Homo sapiens: one gene and its partners. The protein of the gene in region 1 purifies or fractionates together with the protein of each later gene. This does not show direct contact. Each region holds a gene or a part of one and is shown in the gene's direction. Other genes may lie near its edges.

Region 1 (4,231 bases):
CACACATAGCCCCTGGCAGTGGGACCTTAAGTGTGGATGAAATTGGGGGCTGTCAGGAAGGGGCGCTCTCATCACTGACACAGTGGGCTGCTTCCCGAAGTGTGGAATCTGAAGCGAATAGGTGTGGTTTAGGGAAGCCATTGTCATGGACGGGTCCCTCCAGAGCCAGGCCCACAGAGACTCAAAACCCCACCGTGCTGTGTGATGTTTGGATCTCTGTGCCTGGGCCTTGGTCTGTAAAAGCAGGATCACTTTCCTAAGGCTGCTGGGAGGATTACTCGATGTAGGTGAAGTGTTGAGGGGGGAAACAGAGAGGCAGAGACTTGCTCCAAAGCATGCAGTGGTGGGTTGGGTGCCTCCTAGCAGAGAACATATGGGCAGCGAACCTGTTCTCTTGTCCCCGACCAGGGTCAGTGCCAGTGGCGGCAGCCCCCCGGGAAAGAGATCTACCGCAAGAGCAACATCTCCGTGTACGAAGTTGATGGCAAAGACCATAAGGTGAGTGGGTGGCCAGGGGTTGGGAGAGGCCGGGGAGGCCCTGGGCACCTCCCAGATGATCCTCATCACCACCAAAGGGGAGGGGGCAGCCTTAGCTGAGCCTCTATGGGCAGAATGCCTCTGAGGGGCCGGGCACTGCAGCTCACACCTGTAATCCTAGCACTTTTGGAGGCTGAGGTGGGCAGATTGCCTGAGCTCAGGAGTTTGAGAGCAGCCTGGGTAACATGACGAAACTCCTCGACTAAAAATACAAAAAATTAGCTGGCGTGGTGGTGCGCACCTGTAATCCCAGCTACTCGGGAGGCTGAGGCACAAGAATTGCTTGAACCTGGGAGGCAGAGGTTGCAGTGAGCTGAGATTGTGCCACTGTACTCCAGCCTGGTCGTCAGATTGAGAATCTGTCTCAAAAAAAAAAAAGAAGGCCTCTGAGGGCCTCCTAGCCTGGCACTAGGCCTGTAGTTGGTGCATAGGAAACACAGGGCCTTGTGGTGGCCCCAAGACTCTTCTGCTGGTGGGGTTAGGTTCAAACTTGGGTTGTTCTGGAACCCAGAGGAGATTTTCTTGCCTGAGGCTGCTTTTAGAAGTGCTCTCTCCTTCCGTTGGAAAGAAAGGTGTTTGTTTTTGCCTGGGAGGGGACTGCTTTGTGTGAAATTTCCTCCTGAGAGAGCTCTGTGGCTTTCAAGGTTTGAGTTCCTTGTTCCTGGCCCCGAATGACTTCAGCAGGGCAGGTTGGGGCCTTTGGGACCTGCCTAGCTGTTGTAGAGAACTTGGCCTTTGCCTTATCAGTCTGGGAGGGTCTGGCCAAGTGTACTGGTTTCCCGCAGATGGGCCATACAGCACAGGACAGAGAGGGCAGGCTTCAGGGTGGCTCATGTTGCCTTGTCACTTCCTCACTGACCACAGACAAGTTACTTAACATGGTTTGTTCCTGTTTCCTTGTCCATAAGACGGGAGTCATAATATTTAATATTTACCTAGTTGTGTTGTTAGTGGAATAAATGAGACAGCAAATGTCAAGTGTTTAGTGCAGTGCTTAGCACTAGTATGTGCTTAATAAACACGGGCCTTGTTATTATCGGTGACCTCTTGGGGCTTGATTAGCCTTGGACTCGGAGAATACGCAGGCTGAGCCCAGCCCTTGCCCCTGCTCTGCCTTCCTGAGCATGGCTGTGTGGAATAGCAGAAGGGCCCCCGCTGGAGATGTGGGGGTGCTTTCCAACTGCGCTCTGCCAGCTTTGAGGCTCTGGGCAAGCACTTCCACTCTGGGAGCTTCAGCTTCCTCCTGAGTAAGATGGGCCTGGCAGTGCTGGGCTCGCACAGCTGCCGGGTTGGATGAGAGAGTGGCTGTGGTGTCATAAACCAGGGAGCCCCTTAGTGTGTGCCGTGAAGCCAAACTCGGTCCCATTGTCCCCCTCCTGGAGTGCAGCCAAGTGGACAGACAGGGCTCGAGGTTCCTCCATTCAGCAGACGTTTACCAGGCACCCAGCTTCATACTTAGACTCGTGCTAGGCGCTGGGGACACAGCCATGAACAGGACGGTCTAAATTCCTGCCTCGGAGCCTCAGTTTCACGAGCTGAAACAGAGTTAATGTCTGTGAAGACTGAAGCAGATCCTGCATGGAAGGCACCCAGCTCGTATTTGGCACTCAGAAGGGGTGGCCGGGCTTCATCCAGCTCCACTGGCACCTCCGAAGTGCTGTTGCTCTCTCATTTCCAGTTCCCTGTTCGTCAGAGGCTGACCGAAGACTCCTTCCAGTGTGAAATCCTTCTGGCCTGGCGAGGCGCCCACTTCGCGTGGGCTGGTGCCGGCCGCTGGAACCAGCTGGGTGGGGCCTGTGCCTGCCCCCTGAGCCTGTCTCCCCCCTCCTCAACCCTAGATTTACTGTCAGAACCTGTGTCTGCTGGCCAAGCTTTTCCTGGACCATAAGACACTGTACTTTGACGTGGAGCCGTTCGTCTTTTACATCCTGACTGAGGTGGACCGGCAGGGGGCCCACATTGTTGGCTACTTCTCCAAGGTGCTGGGTCTGGAAACTCGGGGTGGGGAGGGTGGGGAGGGCGAAGGTGGGCATGAACAGAGAGTGGGGCAGAGCCTCCCCAGCGGCCCTGAGCACCTGCCTCCTGCAGGAGAAGGAGTCCCCGGATGGAAACAATGTGGCCTGCATCCTGACCTTGCCCCCCTACCAACGCCGCGGCTACGGGAAGTTCCTCATCGCTTTCAGTGAGTGGTTCCTGGCCTGTCTGGGAGGGGGAGACCTGTGGGGCAGGGGTGCCAGGGCAGGCTGGATCCTAAGTTCCTCTTTCTACTGCTGCCAGGTTATGAGCTCTCCAAGCTGGAGAGCACAGTCGGCTCCCCGGAGAAGCCACTGTCTGACCTGGGCAAGCTCAGCTACCGCAGCTACTGGTCCTGGGTGCTGCTAGAGATCCTGCGGGACTTCCGGGGCACACTGTCCATCAAGGACCTCAGGTGAGGGGGCCTCCCGGGCCCTGGGGGCAGGACTTGCCCTGAGATGGGCCACGATCCTGCTTCCTCATACCCTGTCACCATCCTGGCCAGATCCCACAAGGGCACCAGGTCTGGCATTTGCTCTCATCCCTTTTTGCAGCCAGATGACCAGTATCACCCAAAATGACATCATCAGTACCCTGCAATCCCTCAATATGGTCAAGTACTGGAAGGGCCAGCACGTGATCTGTGTCACACCCAAGCTGGTGGAGGAGCACCTCAAAAGTGCCCAGTATAAGAAACCACCCATCACAGGTGGGTGGGGGGCTGCTGTGTGTCGGGGGCGGTGGGGGAGTGTCAGTATATGGACTGGTAGGAGTCAAGGCCTCCTTATTGCTGTCACATGATCCCAAACCAGTCAGACCAGCTCCCAGGATGGAGCCCGGGGCAGGCCTCTCATTCCTGGGCTTCCCTACCCCTCCCCAGCACAGCCTGCCCTTTTGTTCTCACCTGGAGGAGGTGAAACTGGCCTGAGCCCAGAGGAGGGCAGCCAGGTGTGAGCTGGCCTGGCCCAGGCCCAGCCCTGCCTCCCGCCCCTTCTCCCCACAGTGGACTCCGTCTGCCTCAAGTGGGCACCCCCCAAGCACAAGCAAGTCAAGCTCTCCAAGAAGTGAGCAGCCTGGCCCCTGCTGTCGGACCTGAGCCTCCTGGCTCCCAGCCTGTAAATATGTATAGACCTGTTTTGTCATTTTTTTAATAAAGTCAGTTCTGGTGGCCCTGGACTTTGGAGGGGAAGGGGAGGCCAAGAGCGGATGTTCTTCATTTCACTTCACACATGCACGGCAAGTTGTGCTCAAACATTTTAATCATTTCTGCCCTGTTACTCCCACCCCAGATCCAAGCGCCAGCCCAGTTCCGGTGGGGGCTCAGTCCTCCGGAGTCCAGGAGTCAGGGCTCGGGGGCGCTCAGCGGCCAGTGGGCAAGATTGGGGCCTTTCCTGTCCTCGAAGCTGCACAAAGGTGGCCCCAGCCCAGAACACAGGGAGAGGGCAGAGAGATGTGCTCATCAGTCTGGGCAGGCGGGCCGGGAGCAGTCTTCCAGAAACAGGTGGGAGCCAGGGCTCATTTTCATAGCCAAGGGTCCCAGGAGCTCCCCAGGAGCTCGGCCAATGGGCTGGTCCATGGTGGGTGAGGGGCCAGAGGCTCTGGCCATTGCTACAGGCAGTAAAACTCCTGACTCTCAGTGATGGTCCCAAAAAGCACACCCAGAAGAATGGGCTCAAAGATC
Region 2 (7,035 bases), on another chromosome or scaffold:
CTGAGGCGGGTGGATCATTTGAGGTCAGGAGTTCAAGACCATCCTGACCAATATGGTGAAACTCCATCTCTACTAGAAATACAAAAAATTAGCTGGGTATGGTGGTGCACGCCTGTAATCTCAGCTACTTGGGAGGCTGAGAAACAAGAAATCGCTTGAACCCGGGAGGCAGAGGTGGCAGTGAGCCAAGATCAGGCCACTGCACTCTAGCCTGGGCGACAGAGCGAGACTTTGTCTCAATAAATAAATAAATTCTTGTAAATATTCGAAAATAATCTTTAATATCCAATTAGGTAGATAGTTGACTAAACTACTCCCTTACATATGCACATATATATTAAATTGTTTTTACTTTATTATTATTCATAGTTAATTTGTCTCTGTGCATAATTGTCCCCATCCTTTTGTGTGTGTTTTTGTTTCTGATACGTTTTCTTTGGAAAGGTTCTCAGAAGTAGAAACATTTGGAAAAGGGATGGGAATACATTTAAGTCCCTTGCTGCATATCCAGACTGCTTTCCAAAGGATTGTACACATTCACTTTTCATGGTGGGAGCATACTTTTCACCCGCTTATTTATATATATTCTTGATCCTTAGGAGGTTTTCAGAGGCTTAGTTGAAGTCTGTCTATGGCTTATAGTGGGGCTCTGTTCTTCTGCTTGATTGCTGGTGGTGGAAGGTCTCCTGCTTTACACTGGAGTCATCTTTGCTCTTTCTTCTTTGTAGATCCCAACCTTGATTGACCGGATGCTTGTGTCATCCAACACAAAGACTGGGGCTGCAGGAGCTGAGGCCTTGTCTCTCCTACTGAAGAGGCCCTGGGACCCTGCTGTGGGTGTGCTTTCTCATAACAAACCAGTAAGTTGGATGGCTCAGGACTTAACAATGGTACATAAAAATTTTAGACTCAAGCCTTAGAACCTTGGCAGGAGGATAAATGGCTTCTTTAACTATTTATTATTATTATTATTTTTTGAGACAGAATCTTGCTCTGTTACCCAGGCTAGAGTGCAGTGGCACGATCTCAGCTTACTGCAACCTCCACCTCCTGGGTTCAGGCAATTCTCCTGCCTCAGACTCCTGAGGAGCTGAGATTACAGGCATGCACCACCATGCCCAGCTAATTTTCAGTAGTGACAGGATTTCACCATGTTGGCCAGGCTGGTCTCAAACTCCTAATCTCAGGTGATCCACTTGCCTTGGCCTCCCAAAGTGCTGGGATTGCAGGTGTGAGCCAGCATGACTGGCCAGCTTCTTTAACTATTATTAATAATTTATTTTACATAGTGCTTAACATAATTTCACAAGCAAAGGAGCATTGGTTGGGATGAGAAAGGTATTGGGATACTTGGAATTTCATGAAAGGACACTTCTCACTCACTGGTTTTTGGGTGGGATTCTTCCTCTTTAGAGCAAACTCCCTGGCTCTCCGCTGATTCTCATCGCCTCCTCTGGTCCCTCCAGCTCTGTGTTTCCCACTTCACGCCGCCACCGCTTCTGGCAATCTCAGCTGTCCTGCTTGGGCAAGGTATGTGTGGGGGCAAGAGGAACTCCTTCCTGGCAGGGAATATAGTCTTGGAGGATTGAGGAGAAGAATATGTGGGAGGAGGTCAAAATGGGTAACTTGAATGTGGAGCCTCCTCTAACCCTTCTTTCATGTGGAGCCTCCTCTAATCCTTCTTTCATGTGGAATTCCAAGGTTTTGGGTTTAGGTTAGGTTAAACAGAATTGAAAGATTTGAAACTTACCTCTGCTGGTGTGGGGGCTACTTCTTTCCTTCAGGTCATCCCTGTAGCCACCCATCTGCTGAACAATGGCAGTGGGGTAGGAGTTCTACAGTGTCTCGAGCATATGATTGGGGCAGTGAGAAGCAAAGTGCTGGAGGTGAGAATGCCCGTATTTCAGTACATTGTGGCATACCCAGCATTCTGGGGTTGTTCTGCACCTATCTTTGGCCTCCTGTCTTACTGTCTTCTTTCTCTTCCCATGAAGATTCACAGCCATTTCCCACACAAACCCATTATCTTGATTGGCTGGAACACAGGAGCTTTGGTGGCCTGTCATGTAAGTAATTTCTATCTTATTTGGAGGTTGTCCTGGGATGGAATACCACTAATCATAGCTACCATTGAGTCCTTTACTGTGTGTCAGGCTCTGCGCTAGATACTTTACCTATATAATTACATTTTAAACTGTAGAAGACAAATTTTATTAAAACAATTTTTAATTTATTTTGGAAAACTTTAAGCAGAAACAAAAGCAGGTGTAGTATAATAAACCCCCGGATCCTCACCCAGCTTTACCAGTGATCAACTCTTGGCTGGGCTTGTTTCATCTCACCCTGCTCATTTTCTTTCTCCCCTAGATTGTTTTGAAGAAAATCCCAAATATAATAGCATTTTCACATACACACACACACACACACACACACACACACACACATATGGGTATATATCTGTGGAAAAAAAAAAAAGATCCCTTTTTTTCTCTAAACATAAGTACCATACTGTTCTCCCACCTAAAAAACAACAGTAATTGTAGCTGGCAAATATTAATAGCTCTGGAATTTGATGCTGTGTTCATTTCAGTCTTTTTCCAAGACATCAAGGAATCTTTTCGTATTTTACATATATTTGTATGTCTGTCAGTTTGTGTAAGTGTCCCTCATGTCCAAACCCTTAATTTTGCTTCATGCAGTCCAATCAAGTGTGATAGCTATGAGAGGAAGAAGGTCCCCATAGTCCCTGCTCCCAGGGTGTTAGGCCTTAGCAGTTTGCTCCAAGAAATCTAGGCTGTCTGGTAGCTATCCATTAAGTTCAATAGAGAGAATTTTTTTTCACTTAAGGGTTAATGGCAACATTGTGTTCTCTTGACTATATTTACTATTTGTGGAGAAAAATGGAGCAGGAGGGCTCTAGTTGAGGGGGTTGACAGGGTAGGAATACTGAACCTTCTATCCTATGGTTCAGCCACCTGCTGGGGTCCTCTTAGGGCCCCAGTTCTCTAGGTAGTGGCTGCTTATGGAATGACATACCTTGTGTCTTGTGCTCTTACTGCTGCCATTGTGGCAGAAGATGCACCCGGATATTAGGACAGGAGAGGAAGAGGTGAGACTGTCTGGTGGGTCTGGACCACTCCTGGATTCTGGGTAGGCTGAGGTGCCATGAACTCAGTTGACGTTTAGACAAACTGTTCTGTTATTTACAGGTGTCAGTAATGGAGTATGTCACTGCAGTTGTCTGCCTTGGGTTTCCTCTGCTTACTGTGGATGGCCCCAGAGGGGTAAGAATGTGGTAAAGCTGAGTGCTGGGTCATTGGCAGTGGGAGCGCGAGTGTGCATGCCTTGTCCAAGCTGATGCTGAGGCTGACTGCAGTTGCATGGCTGATCCTCCTTAGTGGAGTTTCTGGGTCAGTGCTTTGTGAATATGAAGAAGCCGATTCTAAAACCTATACCTGTTTTAGGATGTAGATGATCCCCTCTTGGATATGAAGACTCCAGTCCTCTTTGTCATTGGTCAGAATTCCCTTCAATGTCACCCTGAAGCCATGGAGGACTTCCGGGAGAAGATTCGAGCTGAGAACAGCTTGGTGGTGGTTGGGGGAGCTGATGACAATCTCAGGTGGGTGGATTCTCCCAGAGCTGCAAGAGAGCTGTGTTACAGTGTTAGAGATAAGCCTGGAAGCTGGCAATGTAACTACAGACCAGTCTGGTTCAGTTAAAAGACAGCATTAGCCGGGCGCGGTGGCTCACGCCTGTAATCCCAGGACTTTGGGAGGCTGAGGCAGGCGGATCACGAGGTCAGGAGATTGAGACCATCCTGGCTAACACGGTGAAACCCCGTCTCTACTAAAAATACAAAAAATTAGCCAGGCCTGGTGTCGGGCGCCTGTAGTCCCAGCTACTCGGGAGGCTGAGGCAGGAGAATGGTGTGAACCCAGAAGGCGGAGCTTGCAGTGAGCCGAGATCCCGCCACTGCACTCCAGCCTGGGTGACAGAGCAAGACTCTGTCTCAAAAAAAAAAAAAAATTAAAAAAAGACAGCATTAAAAAAACCTTTTTTAATATTTGAAATTTCAGATTTATAAAAAGTTATAACACTAGTACAAAACAATTCCTATATACCCTTCACCTGATTTTCTAAATGTTAAACATCTTACATAGCCAAAGTGTAATTCTCAAAATCAAGAAATTAACATCTACATGATACTGTAATTTACAGACTCATGTTTCATCAGTTGTTTCCCTAATGTCATTTTTCTGGTCCAGCATCCAGCCCAGGATCACACTTGGATTTAGTTGCCATGTCTCCTCAGTCTCCTTTAATTTGATAGAGTTCCTCCATCTTTGTCTTTCACGACCTTGAGCTTTTTTTTTTTTTTTTTTTTTTTTTTTTTTGAGGTGGCGCCTGGCTCTGTCGCCTATGCTGGACTGCAGTGGTGCAATCTCAGCTCACTGCAACCTCCGCCTCCTGAGTTCTGGATAGAGTTGATCTATTAAGCTATAGGTATAGGAATTCTGGAGCGGACTGTCCTGGGCACTGTGCTTGGTTTCTTTACATATGTTATTTTGTTTAATCCCCACAACTCCATGAATGGGATGTTATGATTCCCCATTTTGCAGACACGGAAACAGGTTCGGAGAGGTTGCATTACCTGCCTAAGGCTAACATGGCCCTCCTTCTGGGGCTAGAAAATAAACAACCCAGAAAAGAAATACGTTCTTATTTTCATAGGATGCCGTGCAATGTGTAAGAAGTAAACATGTCATCCTTTTTGTTTCTTAGAATAAGCAAAGCAAAGAAGAAATCAGAAGGGTTGACTCAGAGCATGGTGGACAGATGTATTCAGGTAAACAGTTGTTTTGTGTGCTTTTCTCAGCTAGGCTTGCCTTTCTGTAGCCTTTTAGGTTTGGTCTTATTGGTAGTGGTCTCTTTGGCTCTAAGGCCTCCACTGGGGCCTCTGGTAGGTCTCAGTCATAAGCAAAGAAAAGAAAAATGAGAGTGGTGAATTAATGTAAGCAAAGCATCACGGGGGAGAGTGTTGGAAAAGTGGTGGAATGTGACCACCCCAGAGCTCCCCCTGACAGAGGCACTTGCTGGTCTTCTTGAACCACAGTTGCTCAGAAGCCTGGGATTTGCGCCAGACCTTGTTTGAGTGGGGAAGGACTGGCACATGCGGATGCCAGAGCTGAGGGAGAATCTGTTTTAGTTGGAAAGTATATGAGAGGTTCCCATTCTCCAGATGAGGACTAAAAGGCCTTGGTTGGCTCCTCTCTACACTAGGATGAGATTGTGGACTTTCTGACTGGAGTGCTCACTCGTGCTGAGGGTCACATGGGCTCTGAACCTCGGGATCAGGATGCTGAGAAGAAGAAGAAGCCCCGCGATGTGGCCCGCAGAGACTTGGCCTTTGAAGTCCCTGAGCGGGGCAGTCGACCTGCCTCCCCAGCTGCCAAGCTGCCCGCCTCACCCTCAGGCTCAGAGGTAGTGTGAGCAGGGAGGGAGCGCTTTTGCTGGGGAATCAGCACCACAGAGTTGGTTCCTTAATTTCCTGGGGATGCCTCTGTCTTATTAGTGCCATGGGCCTGTGAGTTCCTACAAGGGGAATTCCAGAGGGACATGCTGACTCATGGTCAGATCCTAGTAACATTGTCTCATCTCTTGACCTTCTCACCTTACTCAGGATCTCTCCAGTGTGTCCAGCAGCCCCACCTCCAGTCCCAAGACCAAAGTGACCACAGTGACCTCTGCCCAGAAGTCCAGTCAGATTGGAAGTTCTCAGCTGCTGAAGAGACATGTGCAGCGGACAGAAGCTGTGCTGACCCACAAACAAGCTCAAGGTATAGGCACTTGGCCAGTGGCTCCTCTTGGGTCTGTCTTCTGTAGTTCATGTCACATGGCAGTTGCACAGTATTGATATCTATGGCTTTTTTCAGGGGGATGTGAGAGGCGCCCTTTCTCACATTTCTGTGCAGGCAAAATTCAAAATTAATTATTGAAATGAATGCCAAGGCCTCTGAGTTAGTGGGGCTTTGTGATCACTAGTTATAGCTTTGTCTTGCTGTTCTGGGGAGGCTAGGCTTTATGAACATGTATATTGGCCTAAACTTTTTTCTACCTTGCCAGCCACTCCTCCAGTCGGGGCTCTCCAATCATATGTATTGGGTGATTGATTTTATTAATCAGATTCTAGGGTAACTCACCTGGCATCATGCCCTTTCTTTGTTTGACCCTTGAAGCGTTAAGATTCTCACACTGAGACTTTCAGTGAAGTTTATCAGGGTTCTCTGCATACAGGTTTCAGATGAAGCTGGGAAGTATTCCTATAGTCGAAAGTAAGAGTTTGGTGAGCTGCGAGTGCTATGAAAGGAGCTATAGAAAAGGGAGAGTTCATTGGGTAGGGAAAGAAGAAACAGTGGTTCTGTCCCCCTTCCCCCACATTGATCCAGTTGGGTGGCCTTGAGGTAAGGCCTCTTGGGCATTGGTGTTTAACGATGTGTCCAGGAGCATGTCACCTGAGCTTTTCAGGAATAGGGGTGCCTGGGAAGAGGCAGCAGCCAGAGCTGGCTGTCTGGCAGACAGACGTGGAGGGGATAGGAGGCTCATCTGTTTACTTTCCCTGTGTTTCTTTTAGTGGAGCCAAATGATCAGAACCGAAACCCAGACCTCTTGTGAGTTTGCTTATAAGAGTAGTACTAACAAGGAGTAGAAGTGTGAGTGGATGGGAGGAGTTGAGAAATGAGGCCAGGCCCCAAGGGTCTGCGCGGATGCTCTGCCATGGATCTTCATGAGTGGTGGCCAGAGCCAAGTCCCGTGTGGACAGTGTGTCTTTACACTTCTGAAGAAGACAGAGCTGGTGGTCTGCTGTGCTTCTGCAGAGGGTGATTAGTTGAGAATCTAAGGAGTTTGGAAGGCTGATTGGCGAGCTGGGTTTGAAATGGGGATCTAGGGTGTCATGGGGGAGAGTAGCAGCTTTAGAACCCTGGCTTAGCAGAGCTGATGGGCAAACGGGGAATACTAATAGCGAACATATAT
Region 3 (7,035 bases), on another chromosome or scaffold:
GACACCAGGCCTTTTATGTGGTATGTCCAACATGCTGTCTATAGAGCATTGAAGGTGCCCTACTTAATACCAAATATGCACTTTTCTTCCCCAGCAAAATTTGACTTGTATCTCAGTGGGAACAGAATTATTTATTTATTTAGTCCCCAGAAAATGATCGTTCATATTCCAGAGAACTGCAGACAGCAGACCTGATAGTTATTCTCCACAAGATATGGAAGTAAAAAGATTTCTTGGGGACAAGCATGTTGTTTATAGTGCTAGCAGTCTGATTCTTTATAAAGGCCTATGGTAGAATAGATTTTCAAAAAATGCATATTATATATTTTGCTCTCAGATAAGTATATCAGAAAGAGATAGAAGTATTGCAGAACCATAGATTGCAAATTCATCCAATGTAGTTATTTTCTCTTGTTTTGAAAAATGGACACATTCACACATATTTTAACATATGTAGGAAATTTTACAGCCAAATGAATAAAAATGATCTTTTATGAAAGAACTGACAAAGTTCTAATTTTTTTTTAAAAGTATCAGTTGGCAGGAAGAAGGTAAAAACTCTCATCTAAGAATGCGACGTATTTTGTTTTTAAATCCAATGTTTTTAACTTACACTTTATCTCTTTGGTTTTTTTTTTGTTGTTGTTGCTTGTTTTGTATTGTTTTTTAGTCTTTTAACTCTATATTGCTGGTGGCTCTGATTTCATGATGCATTGTGCTTATGAAACTCTAGCTTTCAGCACTAAAATGAGTTAAAGATAATGTTTTGTTAATTTGGTCATTGTTTTTCCTGTTCAGATCTTTCTTTAAAGGGAATCTGTCTACTTAGACCTTTACATTCAACTTAAAAGAAAAGATTTTATAAGAAAACATCTAAAATCAAAAGCTTAAATGTATTCCTCTAATCCTTTAAAACATGAAAATGCTGTTTATTTTTCGAATTATTGTCATTGGCAATTATGGTTCCTAAAGGGGTATATTTCTATTTAATACTGAAAATATTTGTCCAGTAAGATAACATTTTATGTTCCGAAAATATTATGAATAATATATTTTAAAAAATGAATTTAGACTGAAAGTTGACAGCATCCCTTTAAAGACAGCCTATTCAACTTTTAGTTAATAATTTGTGGGGTTCTTTTTGGTTTTTCATTTGTAATAGAAATGTTATATGTTGCTTAACAATGTTTCTGGATACTAAAGTTGCTTAACAGTCAAAATAGAATACAAGAACAAAAATGAAGAAGCCAAAATAAAAATATCAATTTTTTATTATTTATTCAGGCGATTTCACCTAAACCTCAAAGTCAGAAAAAAAATGAAGCTGACATTAGCAGTTCTGCCAACACTCAGAAACCTGCACTGTTATCCTCAACTTTGTCTTCAGGGAAGGCTCGCAGCAAGAAATGCAAACATGAATCTGGAGATTCTTCTGGGTGTATAAAACCCCCTAAATCACCACTTTCCCCAGAATTAATACAAGTCGAGGATTTGACGCTTGTATCTCAGCTTTCTTCTTCAGTGATAAATAAAACTAGTGAGCACAGATTTTTAAAAAATAGTTATTTATCCTATAAGATACATTAAAAACAGTTTGATTGTAGTTATATTGTATTTTTATGAAGTTGCTTTTTAAAAACTCAAGTGGATATGATAGGGAAGGCTTGAAACTATTTCAGGGGCAAAAACCATAGACATTTCTTACTGATTTATTGCTTAGAGACTACTGCTGGTTGAGAATCCTTTCCATTTAATAACACAGATTCCACTGTAGTTTGACTCTCCTCAACTCATAATCCAAGCATACTGAGAGGCCTGATTCATTACAAAAAAAAAAAGTTATAAAAAGACCCAGGATAGCTATTTTTACTTAAGACTATTCCTGTAGATTTTTTGTCCCCACTTGTCTATAACTTTCCTCTGCAATACATTTTATTCATTCTTATTATAATATTTATAGTCTAGACTTCAGTTTAATCTTTTTAATGAAAAAAAAATGCCCCCATGATTGTATTTTTAAAGATTTTACTGTTTCAGTACTTCTAATTTTTCAAGAGTTAACGCAGTCTTTTTCGAAAACACCTTTCACATGGGTATATCTATCTATCTCCCTATATATCTGTATATATAAATAATACAAGATTTGTGTTGACCCTGAGTTTCTCATATTAGTTTAGTATCCTAAGTTGGAGACATGAATAACAGTTATTTGAAAAGTCAGTTGGTAAATGATGGTTTTTTTTGCTCTTTATGCAAAAAATGAAATACATGATCAGTTGAGTGAATATGACATGTTTCCTTATTCCATATTGTGTCTTCCAGAATAATCAAAGATGTTGGCATTCAGAAGACTTTTATCAAACTTATTAACCTATTTTCCTTCAGTTGCCATATTTTCTACTGAATCATTTTTTCATTTTGATCAGGTTTTGCTTTTTCTTTTTAATAGGTGGAAAGAATGGGAACATAATTCAATTGTTTTCCTAATAAGCTTCATTTCATTATGGCATTTATCATGAAATAGTGTCAGTAGTAGTCACTGGAATGTCATATGACATTAATAAACATTTTATTTTGGAAATTATATCTTGGTATTATAACCACAATATTATAGCAATTAAATTTTATTCTTTCATATTTTTAAGTTATCAGCATGTCTTTTTCGTTTTGATTGTAAAATTACTCTTAAATACCCAAACATCAATGTCTTTAGACTGTTCTTATTTCCTCTTTCTAAATTAACATGAATATATTGGCATATATAATCTTGCCTATTCTAGTCAAATGTGTTTGTATGCCATGTAGAAAGAAGATATCTAAAAGTGTGAGAGACATTTCCAAATATTTATATTATATTGCTAGAAGATGCCTAAATTACTTACCAAGTTGTTAAAAAACACAAGTACACAATGTCATAATCTTAAATATCCTCATTATTTGCTCACAATAAGTATACAAAGTTGTTTTTGTTCATTTTTTTTTTTTAATGAATCAGGCCCAGACATGTTTATAAAACTCCATTTGGGGGGGATGATGATGGGATAAAATTATTTACATTAGTGTAAAGTAAATCACTAACTCTATAATGTTGTATCATCTTTGTCCCTGCCTTTTTTTCCCTTAGAGTTTCTAGATTTGCAATGTAGCAAAAGGAATACATATATATATATTTTTCCTTATCTTTTGCTGTAAAGAGACTATTTTCCCGAAGGAAAAATGGCAATTTACACAACGATCTGCAATTAGAGAAATTAACTGTAGTCTGTCACTTGGGGGAGCTACTTGAAATTAATGTTCCATTTTATTTTCTTTTAGTTCTAGTAGAGTGTAGATTTTACAATTTTTGATTGACTCATTTTGAATGAGGGCACAATTTTTGCCTTTGATTACCTTTGGAACATGCCATTCCTTGTGGATATCTTATAACAACATCAGAGGGAAGAATATAAATCATTTTTTCCCATTTATCTCCTTAAATATTGTAAGATGCTCCTGGTATGTATCTGCTTCGTGAACATTGAAGATCTTTTTCTAGGTCCTCCACAGCCTGTGAATCCCCCTAGACCTTTCAAGCATAGTGAGCGGAGAAGAAGATCTCAGCGTTTAGCCACCTTACCCATGCCTGATGATTCTGTAGAAAAGGTTTCTTCTCCCTCTCCAGCCACTGATGGGAAAGTATTCTCCATCAGTTCTCAAAATCAGCAAGAATCTTCAGTACCAGAGGGTAATGTATATTGATTTCCTATAGAACCAAACATAAAAGAAGATAAAGAAAAAACTAAGAGATAAAGATTATTAAAATATTAAGATATTTCTGCTCTTATATCTTCTGGAGTTATAAGCACTTCACTTATTCTACAAATATTTATTGAGTGCCTTCTTTGTGCCAGGCACTGTTTAAATTATGTAACACTTTAATTCACAGTGATAGTAACTGAGCCATTTTATCTGTGTTAATATTACATTACACTCTTTATTTTGTGTAGTGCCTGATGTTGCACATTTGCCACTTGAGAAGCTGGGACCCTGTCTCCCTCTTGACTTAAGTCGTGGTTCAGAAGTTACAGCACCGGTAGCCTCAGATTCCTCTTACCGTAATGAATGTCCCAGGGCAGAAAAAGAGGATACACAGATGCTTCCAAATCCTTCTTCCAAAGCAATAGCTGATGGAAGAGGAGCTCCAGCAGCAGCAGGTAAAAGAAAAAAAATAAAGGCTCCTATAAGTAGATAAGTAGCTAGGCTTGCAGTTATTAGGTATAAACATTTTGAGGTTTAACTACATTATTTTGATTCCTATATAATTCCTTTTCATAAATACTTTAACATTTATAGGAGAGTTTCATCTCCGTTTTAAAGGTCTTTTGTGTGATCATTTTACAATCATATTCCCTGGACATACATGCTGCTTAACCTTGTCACTTGATCTATTTCCTTCTCCCTGCTTCTTTTTTATATATCCTTATTTCTACTAAATATAAATTATTAGAGCCAAGTATAGTTACAGGAATTCTTACTTTTGAAGCTGGGAAATACTTAATGGGATCAGTACTTTGGTTTAAGGATTTTGATAGAATTTAATATTTAAGAAACACTGAGCTATATGCCTGTATCTTAAATATAATTCCATATTTTGGGGCAGAATCCTCCAAATTGAATTAAATTTGCTGTAAAGTTATTTGAGGAGTGCAATATGTAAAATCAGCCATCCTTAATAACACATTTTTTGCATGATTTTGTGATATTTATTGTAGTTCGAAAGCATTTGGATGTGTATTTTACCAAGCTGATATTTTAAATCTAATAATATCTATTCATGTTTCCCTTATGTGGGTGCATTGTTTTATTTAGAAGTTTTTAAGAATTATAACCTGATCTAGAATACACATAAAATAAAAAGGCCAATACTAGTTACAAATGCACTTCTGGTAAATTACTGTTGGAACTAGATGTTTGAAGGAAGTCTGAATTTAGTTTGTTGTGAGTTGGAGAAAAACATAAGGCAGTTTGTTGATTCGTTACCAAGGGTGTTGGTGATCATTGTGTTTACAGGCGTCTTCCCTGAAACCATTTTATCCATTTTTTGGATGAAGCATAAAATGAAACTTATTCTTTTCTGGTGATGGCATGTATTGAAATAAAATGATTGAAGTAACATAAGAGACATATACTTATTTTTATTAATTTTTATCTTTATATAAAGGTTGAAGTTACTTTGTACATGATAATTCTTTATCATGTTTAAAAAAATAAAACAATACCCAAATGTGAATATTTGTAGATTTTGAAACATTTCCTGTAGTTTCTCAAATCAGATCTATTGTCTTTTGACTCTTGGTCTTTCCTTAAGATAATTAATTTTTCTTTTCCACTTTTCCACAAGATTTCCAAATTGTCATTGACCCATTGAGATACTTTTTTGATAAAGGTCTTATTCGGTTCTTTAACGATCTGGAATTTGTTACCGTACTGAATATATGAAAAATATGTTAAAGTTATAAGGTTGTATATACATTGGGAAAATTATTTTCAAATGTACATGTGAAAATATTTACATTTTTCTTTAAAAGTATTCTAATATTTGTAACAATATTGAAATATAGGCCAATATAAGTAACTGTGTAATAACTAAGAGTCTTACATTAACAGATTATATATCATAAAATATCAATGTAGTGATTGTGCATGGAAGTCCTTGACTTCGATGATTTTGCTTCTAACCAGATTATTAACTTCCTCTTTTCAGAATTTCTAGCATATTTGTGGCAATGTGGCTGACTACCTTAGAGGAAGGCACACGAATATTCTTTCCCTTTTTAAATATTAGCAGTAACTATTGGAAAAGTAAAATAAGTAAGATCGTTTTCTGGGAAAGTAAAAGGTAGAGAGGAGTTTAGCTATAATTTGAATTTGTGGAAGAGTAAGGATTATCTGGATATGATGAGCTTAATAGTACAGTAGCTGTCAACTTTAATTGATTATAGCAAGGAAATGCATAGTTTTAATTGTTAATTACTGAAGATTTATTAGAGGGTTGAACACAGTATTTGAATAGAGGGAGGTGAAATTCTCATTTGTTTCTGTGACCTCTTAATTTTTAGTTTTTGAGGAAAGTAGTGCAATTTAGGTCATGTTCTGACTGAACACCTTTTGATTACAACCTTGTGTGCCTGTCCCACGTGCATTGAAATTCTCGGTGGTCTCTATGCTTTTCTCCTTAACCTTTTTGTTATTCACCCTCTCTTGACTATTTTGCAGTATTTGTTATGCTTCTGTCTGTTCCCCAAGTCCTTTTACATCTAGAGCCAAAGTGCCAGGTTTTTATGTTTTTATTTCTCTGATACATATGTACATATATGCACATACTCATACACACATGTATGTTTTGTTGGTGTCCATATTATAAAAGTAAATTTTCTTACTGTTGAATTTTAAAACTGATAATTGAAAACATTCTTTACAGTTCGTCAGAGACATTTTCTGAGTTATTTTTGTCAAATTGAAACTCTTGGGGAGTTTAGAATGATGAGGGTGTTAGTTGCTAACTGTGAAATTGTTCAACATGGTTAGGTTTTTACTTTTGGGGGAGCAAGATAAATTCACACTGTTGAGTTTAGCATTTGATGCTGAAGGATTGATGAGATTTGCAGATAGTCCAATTATTATATACAACTTTTCTTAATTGTTTTCCAATAGAGATAATGAACTTGCAATAATCTCTCGTATGTTCTTCTGCTGGGGTGGATGCCCACATGTCTAGCCACTGTTAAGAATGCTATTGCTGCCTACATTACCAAACAAGTAATTGGTATCTTTGTAAAAATTGATGCCTTTGTTTTTATTTTACTATCAGGATGCTTTGTCACAGAGCCAGCCAATTTTAGATAAGGATACAGCCTCAGAAAATCTTAATTCTGTTAGTATCTGGGAGGATAGAGTAAATCAAGTTTTTTGAAAAGGGGTCTTTTGAAAAATACTCTTGGTTCAGGTTCTCACAGGCACCTTGGGCCAACAGTTATCTATTGCCCCTTGTCAACA

Evidence for each region. Proteins that work in one complex are often made in the same cells at the same time.
Region 2: the proteins of KAT8 (region 1) and KANSL3 purify together in Homo sapiens (affinity purification with mass spectrometry; 2 studies listed by BioGRID and IntAct, with this or other methods). This does not show direct contact.
Region 3: the proteins of KAT8 (region 1) and PHF20L1 purify together in Homo sapiens (affinity purification with mass spectrometry; 3 studies listed by BioGRID and IntAct, with this or other methods). This does not show direct contact.

What each region holds. Positions count from the first base shown.
Region 1 is NC_000016.10:31,127,642-31,131,872, forward strand, and holds the end of KAT8 (histone acetyltransferase KAT8), read left to right. Parts: intron 1-408; coding exon 409-498; intron 499-2,375; coding exon 2,376-2,516; intron 2,517-2,625; coding exon 2,626-2,719; intron 2,720-2,814; coding exon 2,815-2,965; intron 2,966-3,104; coding exon 3,105-3,259; coding exon of another isoform or gene 3,260-3,351; exon of another isoform or gene 3,352-3,553; coding exon 3,554-3,618; 3' UTR 3,619-3,718; downstream 3,719-4,231.
Region 2 is NC_000002.12:96,607,313-96,614,347, reverse strand, and holds part of KANSL3 (KAT8 regulatory NSL complex subunit 3), read left to right. Parts: intron 1-728; coding exon 729-860; intron 861-1,413; coding exon 1,414-1,530; intron 1,531-1,784; coding exon 1,785-1,886; intron 1,887-1,994; coding exon 1,995-2,066; intron 2,067-3,209; coding exon 3,210-3,284; intron 3,285-3,464; coding exon 3,465-3,622; intron 3,623-4,785; coding exon 4,786-4,849; intron 4,850-5,283; coding exon 5,284-5,484; intron 5,485-5,683; coding exon 5,684-5,840; intron 5,841-7,035. UniProt on the Homo sapiens protein: Non-catalytic component of the NSL histone acetyltransferase complex, a multiprotein complex that mediates histone H4 acetylation at 'Lys-5'- and 'Lys-8' (H4K5ac and H4K8ac) at transcription start sites and promotes transcription initiation.
Region 3 is NC_000008.11:132,813,353-132,820,387, forward strand, and holds part of PHF20L1 (PHD finger protein 20-like protein 1), read left to right. Parts: intron 1-1,284; coding exon 1,285-1,537; intron 1,538-3,535; coding exon 3,536-3,724; intron 3,725-3,986; coding exon 3,987-4,193; intron 4,194-7,035.